2 linked regions of the Homo sapiens genome follow. The protein of the gene in region 2 purifies or fractionates together with the protein of the main gene of each other region. This does not show direct contact. Each region holds a gene or a part of one and is shown on either strand. Other genes may lie near its edges. The genes, in order: OSCP1 and USP16.

The links.
Region 1: the proteins of USP16 (region 2) and OSCP1 purify together in Homo sapiens (affinity purification with mass spectrometry; one large-scale study listed by BioGRID and IntAct). This does not show direct contact.

What each region holds. Positions count from the first base shown.
Region 1 is NC_000001.11:36,433,291-36,437,112, forward strand, and holds part of OSCP1 (protein OSCP1), read right to left. Parts: intron 2,664-3,822; exon of another isoform or gene 2,509-2,663; intron 1-2,508. UniProt on the Homo sapiens protein: May be involved in drug clearance in the placenta.
Region 2 is NC_000021.9:29,027,452-29,031,273, forward strand, and holds part of USP16 (ubiquitin carboxyl-terminal hydrolase 16), read left to right. Parts: intron 1-421; 5' UTR 422-462; coding exon 463-523; intron 524-3,143; coding exon 3,144-3,322; intron 3,323-3,822. UniProt on the Homo sapiens protein: Specifically deubiquitinates 'Lys-120' of histone H2A (H2AK119Ub), a specific tag for epigenetic transcriptional repression, thereby acting as a coactivator.

The sequences.
Region 1 (3,822 bases), on a different chromosome or scaffold from region 2:
TGGCTGAGGGCAGAGGAAAGACATTCCAGTTGAGGGAAACAGTACATGTGAGGGCCTGGAGGCAGCAATGAGTATGTTATTTTTCTGGGAGAAAGAGGAGAATGGCCTGAGGACAGTTTGTGTTGGGGATGGCAGGTAATAAAGCTGGGTAAGTATGGCAAATGAAGATGGCAACAATAGAAACTGGGGACTGCAAGAATGGGGAGGGAGGGAGGGAGGTAGGGGTCAAGGGCTGAAAAACTAACTATTGGGTACTATGCTGACTACCTGACTGATGGGCTCACTTGTACCCCAGACCTCAGGATCACGCAATATACCCATGTAACAAACCTGTGCATGTACCTCCTGAATATAAAATAAAAGCTGAATTATTAAAAATAGAATAAAGTTTTTGGGGAGATACACAATATAATTTAGACTAGATGTAGTAGAAGTTAGGGGGTTAAAGTTTTCTGGGCTGACATGATCAAAGTGGTGACTGAACGAGATCTGGCAATGATGAGCTGTGACAGAAGGGAGAGACTAGTTAGGGGGAGTAGCTAGCACCTGGTTCCTGAAAAGATTACAATAAATATCTACTGATTGCATGAATGAAAGAAATGTTGTTGGAGCAATCCAGACTTAAGGCCTGGAAAAAAGATAGTGGGAACGGAGAAGTCAGGGAAAGGAAGATCACGCGATATTTAGAAGGAAAAGCTGTCAGTAGGTGGTGACTGCCTAGATTTGGGGGATGATGATCAGGGTTGTCCAGAAGGACTGCACCTTTTCAGCCTAGTGCGGGTGGGGAGGGATGATGCTATTGATGGAGGAAAAGACGTCTGAGGGATGTGGGAGCGGAAGAGCCAGGAGAGAAGATGGACGGTTAACTTAAGGACATGTCTGGGGCAGGATTGAAACGATAAACAACTACCATCTGAGTGTCATGCCAAGCACGTGTATATATATTACCTCATTTGATCCCATTTATTCTTCACAAGAACTCTATGAGGTAGGTATTAGCCCAGTTTAATAATGAGGAAACTTGCCTAATTTCATATTGCTGGTAAGTGCAGAATGATATTTGACCTCAAGACTATCAGATTCTAAGGCACTTGCCAGGACCCTGCTACACAATCCCATTTCTCCTACCTGCAGCCAAACATTTCCACTTAGAAGGTGGCATACAACCAGAATAGCTAGCCAGATGCAGTGGCTCACGCCTGTTATCCCAGCACTTTGGGAGGCCGAGGTGGGTGGATCACCTGAGGTCAGGAGTTCGAGACCAGCCTGGCCAACATGTTGAAACCCCATCTCTACTAAAAATACAAAAATTAGCCGGGTGTGGTGGTGCGTGCCTGTAATCTCAGCTACTCAGGAGGCTGAGACAGGAGAATTGCTTGAACCTGGGAGGCAGAGGTTGCAGTGAGCCGAGTTAGTGCCACTGCACTCTAGCCTGGGTGACAGAGTGAGACTTTGTCTCAAAAAAAAAAAAAAAAAAAAAAGAAATTAAAACAAGCCCCAGAAAACAGGAATAGCCTGGTGTGTGTGCATGGGGATTGGGAAAGTACAATACTGGAGATACAGATTTGAGACTCTGCCATCATTGTCAAACATTAAGTGCTCGTATATAGGAAACCATGCTAGAAATAAAGAATAAAAACAGGTATAAGATGAAGGAATGCCAGTTCAGAGTAATTCAGTAAATTGGGTCTCACAGCTAGTAACTGGTAGAGCTAAGGCTTAAACTCAGCTTTTTTAATTCTAAGTTCTGTGTCCTTCCTCTATGGAAATTTAAACTTCCTTTTCTTTTCTTTTCTTTTTCTTTTTTTTTTTTTTTTTTTTGACATGGGGGTCTCACTCTGTTACCCAGGCTGGAGTACAGTGGCGTGAACACAGCTCACTGAAGCCTCAACCTCCCCTGCTCAAGCTATCCTCCTGTCTCAGCCTCCTGAGTAGCTGGGACTACAGTTGTGTGCCACTGTGTGACCAGCTAGTTCTTCTAATTTTTAGTAGAGATGAGGTCTCACTATGGTTTTTTTTTTAATATGTTAAAAAATATTAGAGACGGGTTTTTGCTATGTTGCCCAGGCTGGTGTTGAACTCCCAGGCTCAAGTGATTCTTCCACCTGGGCCTCTCAAAGTGCTGGGATTACAGGTGTGAGCTACTGTGCTCAGTCTCTAAACTTTTTTAAAGGCAGAGAGAGAAGAGCAAGCAGAACTGAAAATATAATTAATATTTATTGAACAGCTATATGCCAGGCCTAGGTATGTTTCTCACTTAATTATCCTAATAATTGATGAAGTAGCATTTATTATCCTCATTTTACAGATGAGAAAATGAAGGCTCAGAGAGTTAAAGTAACTTTTTTTTTTTTGTTTTGAGACAGAGTTTTGCTCTTTTTGCCCAGGCTGGAGTGCAATGGCGCGATCTTGGCTCACTGCAACCTCTGCCTCCCGGGTTCAAGCAATTCTCCTGCCTCAGCCTCCCAAGTAGCTGGGATTACAGGCACTTGCCACCATGCCCAGCTAATTTTTTGTATTTTTAGTAGAGACGGGGTTTCACCATGTTGGCCAGGATGGTCTCGATCTCTTGACCTCGTGATCCGCCTGCCTCGGCCTCCCAAAGTCCTGGGATTACAGGCATGAGCCACCGCGCCTGGCCGAGTTAAAGTAACTTTCCAAAGGTAAGTGGCAAGAGGTAAGAGGGCCCAGTTAAAGGCAGTCTGTCTCCCTGAGTCTTCTAAGTACCAGTAATAAGTGAGTGCTGACTCTGCAAGTCTAACTCCCACCATCAGTCATCATGATTTTTAAAATTTTTCTTTCTCTCTCTCTCTATTTTTTTTTTTTTTTTTGAGATGGAGTCTTGCTCTGTCCCCCAGGCTGGAGTGCAGTGGCGTGATCTCAGCTCACTGCAAGCTCCGCCTCCCAGGTTCACGCCATTCTCCTGCCTCAGCCTCCCGAGTAGCTGGGACTACAGGCGCCCACCACCACACCGGGCTAATTTTTTTTTTTTTGTATTTTTAGTAGAGACGAGATTTCACCATGTTAGCCAGGATGGTCTCGATCTCTTGACCTCATGATCCACCCGCCTCAGCCTCCCAAAGTGCTGGGATTACAGGCGTGAGCCACCGCGCCCGGCCCTCTCTATTTTTTTAGAGACAGGGTCTTGCTATGTTGCCAAGGCTGGTCTTGAACTCCTGGGCTCAAGCGATCCTCCTGCCTTGGCCTCCCTAAGTGCTGGGATTACAGGCATACGCCATTACACCTGGTCTTTTAAAATTTTTTTGTAGAGATTTGGTCTTGCTGTGTTGCCCAAGCTGGTGTTGAACTCCTGGCCTCAATCCCAAAGCACTGATATTAGAGCTGCAAGACACTGTGCCTGGTAGTCCTCTTTCACATGGTGGGAGAAGTTGTAAAGGAATTATTATTATATTTTACATTAACTAAAGACCAAACTTTAAAGATTTCATTAGTTTCCCCCTGACATCCTATTTCTGTTCTGAAATCCCATCCAGGACACCACATTCTATTCTGCTGTCCTGTGTCCTTGGGCTCCTCTTGGCTGGACAGTTTCTCTGACTCTCCTTGACTTTGGTGACCTTGATAGTTTTGAGTACTGGTCAGGTATTTTGTAAGCATGACCAACCAACAGTATTTGTGTGATGTTTTTCTTATGGTTAGCCTGGGGTTTGGAGTTTTGGGGAGGAAGACCACAGAGGTGAAGTTCCATTTTCATCACATCATGTCAGGGTACATACTGGCAACCTGACTCATCACTGTTGATGTTACCTTGACCATCCGGTTGGGGTAGTTTATCAAGTTTCTCTACTGTAAAGCTAATTA
Region 2 (3,822 bases):
AATTTGCATAGACTGCAGAGCTAAGAAAGGTAGCTTAGAAGGGAAGCAAATCAGTTTTCTGATTAAAGTGCTGCCATTATTTCACATGTATGTAGTGAGGAGTCACCTTCCTAAGAGTATCAAGTTCTGAGACTGTTCAAGATCTGTGTAAGATGACCAAGGTTCTCTCCTGACCTTTACATATATTGAAAACCTCTTAAGCTTGCTAAGAATCACTTTCCTATGCTATGAAAAACGGGAGATAACTATTCTATCTACTTGAGTTCCTGTTGAAAATTAGATGATTATATGTGATTGGTCTTTGTAAATTACAATGTGATAGACATGCATAATATACGTGGCTTAGTTATATTACTGTCTCCTAGAGAAATATAAGACATACTTTTTTTTTTGGTCAAGCTAACTTTATCTTGTTTTCTAGATTGTTATTTTGTGTCAGTAAGTAATCCATAAAGTGCCAACATGGGAAAGAAACGGACAAAGGGAAAAACTGTTCCAATCGATGATTCCTCTGAAACTTTAGGTATATTTCATTGATTGAATCTTTAATGTTTATATCTCTAAATGAATATGTTTTAAAATGTAAAAATGGTATAAAGCTGCATATTATTGTTATATTATCTGCATTTTAATATAATGTTTGTATCTATATGTCATTTAATAGTCTTCTACTTTTTTTTTTTTTTTTGAGAAAGAATCTCGCTCTGTTGCCCAGGCTGGAGTGCAGTGGTGCAATCTCAGCTCACTGCAACCTCCGCCTCCCAGGTTCAAACGGTTCTCTCGTGCCTCAGCCTCTGAGTAGCTGGGATTACAGACACATCCCACCACAGCCAGCTAATTTTTTTTTTTTTTTTTAATAGTGACGGGGTTTCCCTGTGTTGGTCAGGCTGGTCTTGAACTCCTGGCCTCAAGTGATCCGCCTGCCTTGGCCTCCAAAAGTGCTAGGATTACACGTGAGAGCCACTGCACCTGACTTTCTACATCTTTTTTGTTTTTTTTCCTGAGACGGAGTCTGGCTCTGTTGCCCAGGCTGGAGTGCAGTAGTGTGATCTCAGCTCACTGCAGCCTTTGCCTTGAGGGTTCAAGCGATTCTCCTGTCTCAGCCTCATGAGTAGCTGGGATTACAGGTGTGCTCCACCACACCCAGCTAATTTTTGTATTTTTAGTAGAGACAGGGTTTCACCATGTTGACCAGGCTGGTCTTGAACTCCTGACCTCAAGTGATCCGCTTCCTCAGCATCCCAAAGTGCTGGGATTACAGGCGTGAGCCACCGCGCCCGACCTTCAACAACATTTTTAATGGCATATTATTGCATTTAGCAAAGACCATGGATGTATATTTCATAATTTATTTAGATAATTTTCTACTGTTACAGATTTAGGTAATCTTTAACTTTTTAGTATTATGAATGGCTCAGTAGTAAACAACTTTATAGCTAAATCTCTCTGTACATCCAAATATTTTCCTAATACACATACATAATTTTTGAATCGAAGGGTGTAAACATTTTTAAGACTCTTTTGATCCTGTTGCTAAATTGCCATCCAGAAATGTTTTACTAATTTCCAGGCCCCCTATTAGCGTAGTAAAGTGCCCATTTCCCTGAACCTTCATCGGCACTGGTTAGTATCATCTGTAAACATCTGTGCTGATTTGGTAGTTAAAAAAGGTTACCTTCTGACCAGGTGTGGTGGCTCACGCCTGTAATCCCAGCACTCTGGGAGGCCAAGGCGGGCAGATCACGAGGTCAGGAGATCGAGACCATCCTGGCTAACACGGTGAAACCCCGTCTCTACTAAACATACAAAAAATTAGCTGGGCGTGGTGGCGGGCGCCTGTAGTCCCAGCTACTTGGGAGGCTGAGGCAGGAGAATGGCGTGAACCTGGGAGGCGGAGCTTGCAGTGAGCCGAGATTGTGCCACTGCACTCCAGCCTGGGCAACAGAGCAAGACTCCGTCTCAAAAAGAAAAAAGAAAAAAAAGGGTACCTTCTTTTTCTAGTTTGTATTTCTTTGACTACTGAGATTTGGTAGTTTTTCCACCTGATCCCATTTGCATTTATATTTCTTTTCTTGGTGCAAGATCATTGGACATAAAGCTAATTATGCCACTTGACTAGTTTCTAAACCTCCAGTGTTCCTGGAACAACTCAGCACTGTAGAGTGGTTTGCAAAGCTCTTTACTTATCTTGGCCCCAACAGAGTTTTCAGCCTCAGGTTCAACTGCTCATTTTTGCACATTGTGTAACTCCATCATCTGGGGAGACAGCATGCACTTTCACATGTTTTTGTTCTTGGCATGGGCATTTTCAGATTGCCCTTCACTCCCTGAGGTCGCAGTTTAAAGTGTGAGCTATGAAGTCTGAAAGACTTGAGTCTAAATTCTGGCATAGATACTCAGTAGTTATGTGGGTACTAAATCTTAGTTTTCTCATTTGTCATTGGGAATAATAGTGTCTTCTAGGGTGATTGTAAGGATTAAATGGGATAATGTATTCAAAACATTTAACAAAGTTCATAGGACATATTTAATTAATATCAGCAATTTTTATTACTATTATTATCTTCTAGGATTGCACAGATGTTACCTCCCCTGTGAAACTTTTGGTGACTTTAGCCTTCTCTGCTTGTGCTGCTATACCATGTTTCGGAGATTCTTATACATTAATTTATTTAGCTGCCTTTCCTTCCAGAATGTGAGCTACTCAAAGAAAACAGCTGTGACTTGGTCAATTTTGGGCTCCTGAGCGTCTAGCACAGTGCCTGCCCTATAGTAGGTGTATTATTGACTAAATGAAGGACGTTTTCTACAAATCTTTAAAGATAAAGAGAATCATAAGTATGATAAAGGGCCTTAATTTAAAGGAAATAGCCAAATAAATTGAAATGAATTTGTAGTGGGGGACAGTGGTGGTTATATTTAGGACTTCAAGAAAGCGAAACTTCACAAATTTGTGTCAAATCTCTTTCTCACATATTTATCTCATATTATTCAAATATCAAACAATTTTAAGTTCAGAATATCTTAACAGTTTATAGAGTAAATTTCATTTTTGAAATGTGAATCGAGGGTAAGTTTTGAGATTAACTGAAGAAAGTCATTTTTGACCTTATATATTCCTTGTCTATTATTTGTTTTAATAGAACCTGTGTGCAGACACATTAGAAAAGGATTGGAACAAGGTAATTTGAAAAAGGCTTTAGTGAATGTGGAATGGAATATCTGCCAAGACTGTAAGACTGACAATAAAGTGAAAGATAAAGCTGAAGAAGAAACAGAAGAAAAGCCTTCAGTTTGGCTGTGTCTTAAATGTGGCCATCAGGTATGCTTACGTTTTAAGATCAATATGGGATTTTAGAAAACTCTTTGAACTTACTTTAGAAGGTATTACCTGAAAGTACAGTATGGATAAAAGGATACTAGTAACATAGATCATGTTCTCTGGAGAACCAGTTCTGAGATGTGTGTATAGGTGGTGGAGTGTTCTCTGGTACCACACCAGTAAAAGTAAGGGAAGCAAGATTAAGCATAGGGAGAAGTTGAATGAAGAGGCAGTGGCAACAGGGTCTCAGCCAATCCCACAGTGATCTCTTGCCTGAATTGAGGCAAGGAGCTAGACCTTTCTACCTGTGCATAGACCAGTCATTGGATGTGGCCTGCCCCTAGAGCAGGAAGTAACCTTGGGCAAGGCAGCTCCCTTTTGTTGAGACTGATTCCTGGGGATGGATGGACTAGACTGTGAGCTCTCAGCCGGCCACATTCTCAGCACCTGGGGGAATGAGTAGTACCTTGATCTTTGGCAGTGAGGGCATGTCTGGCTGG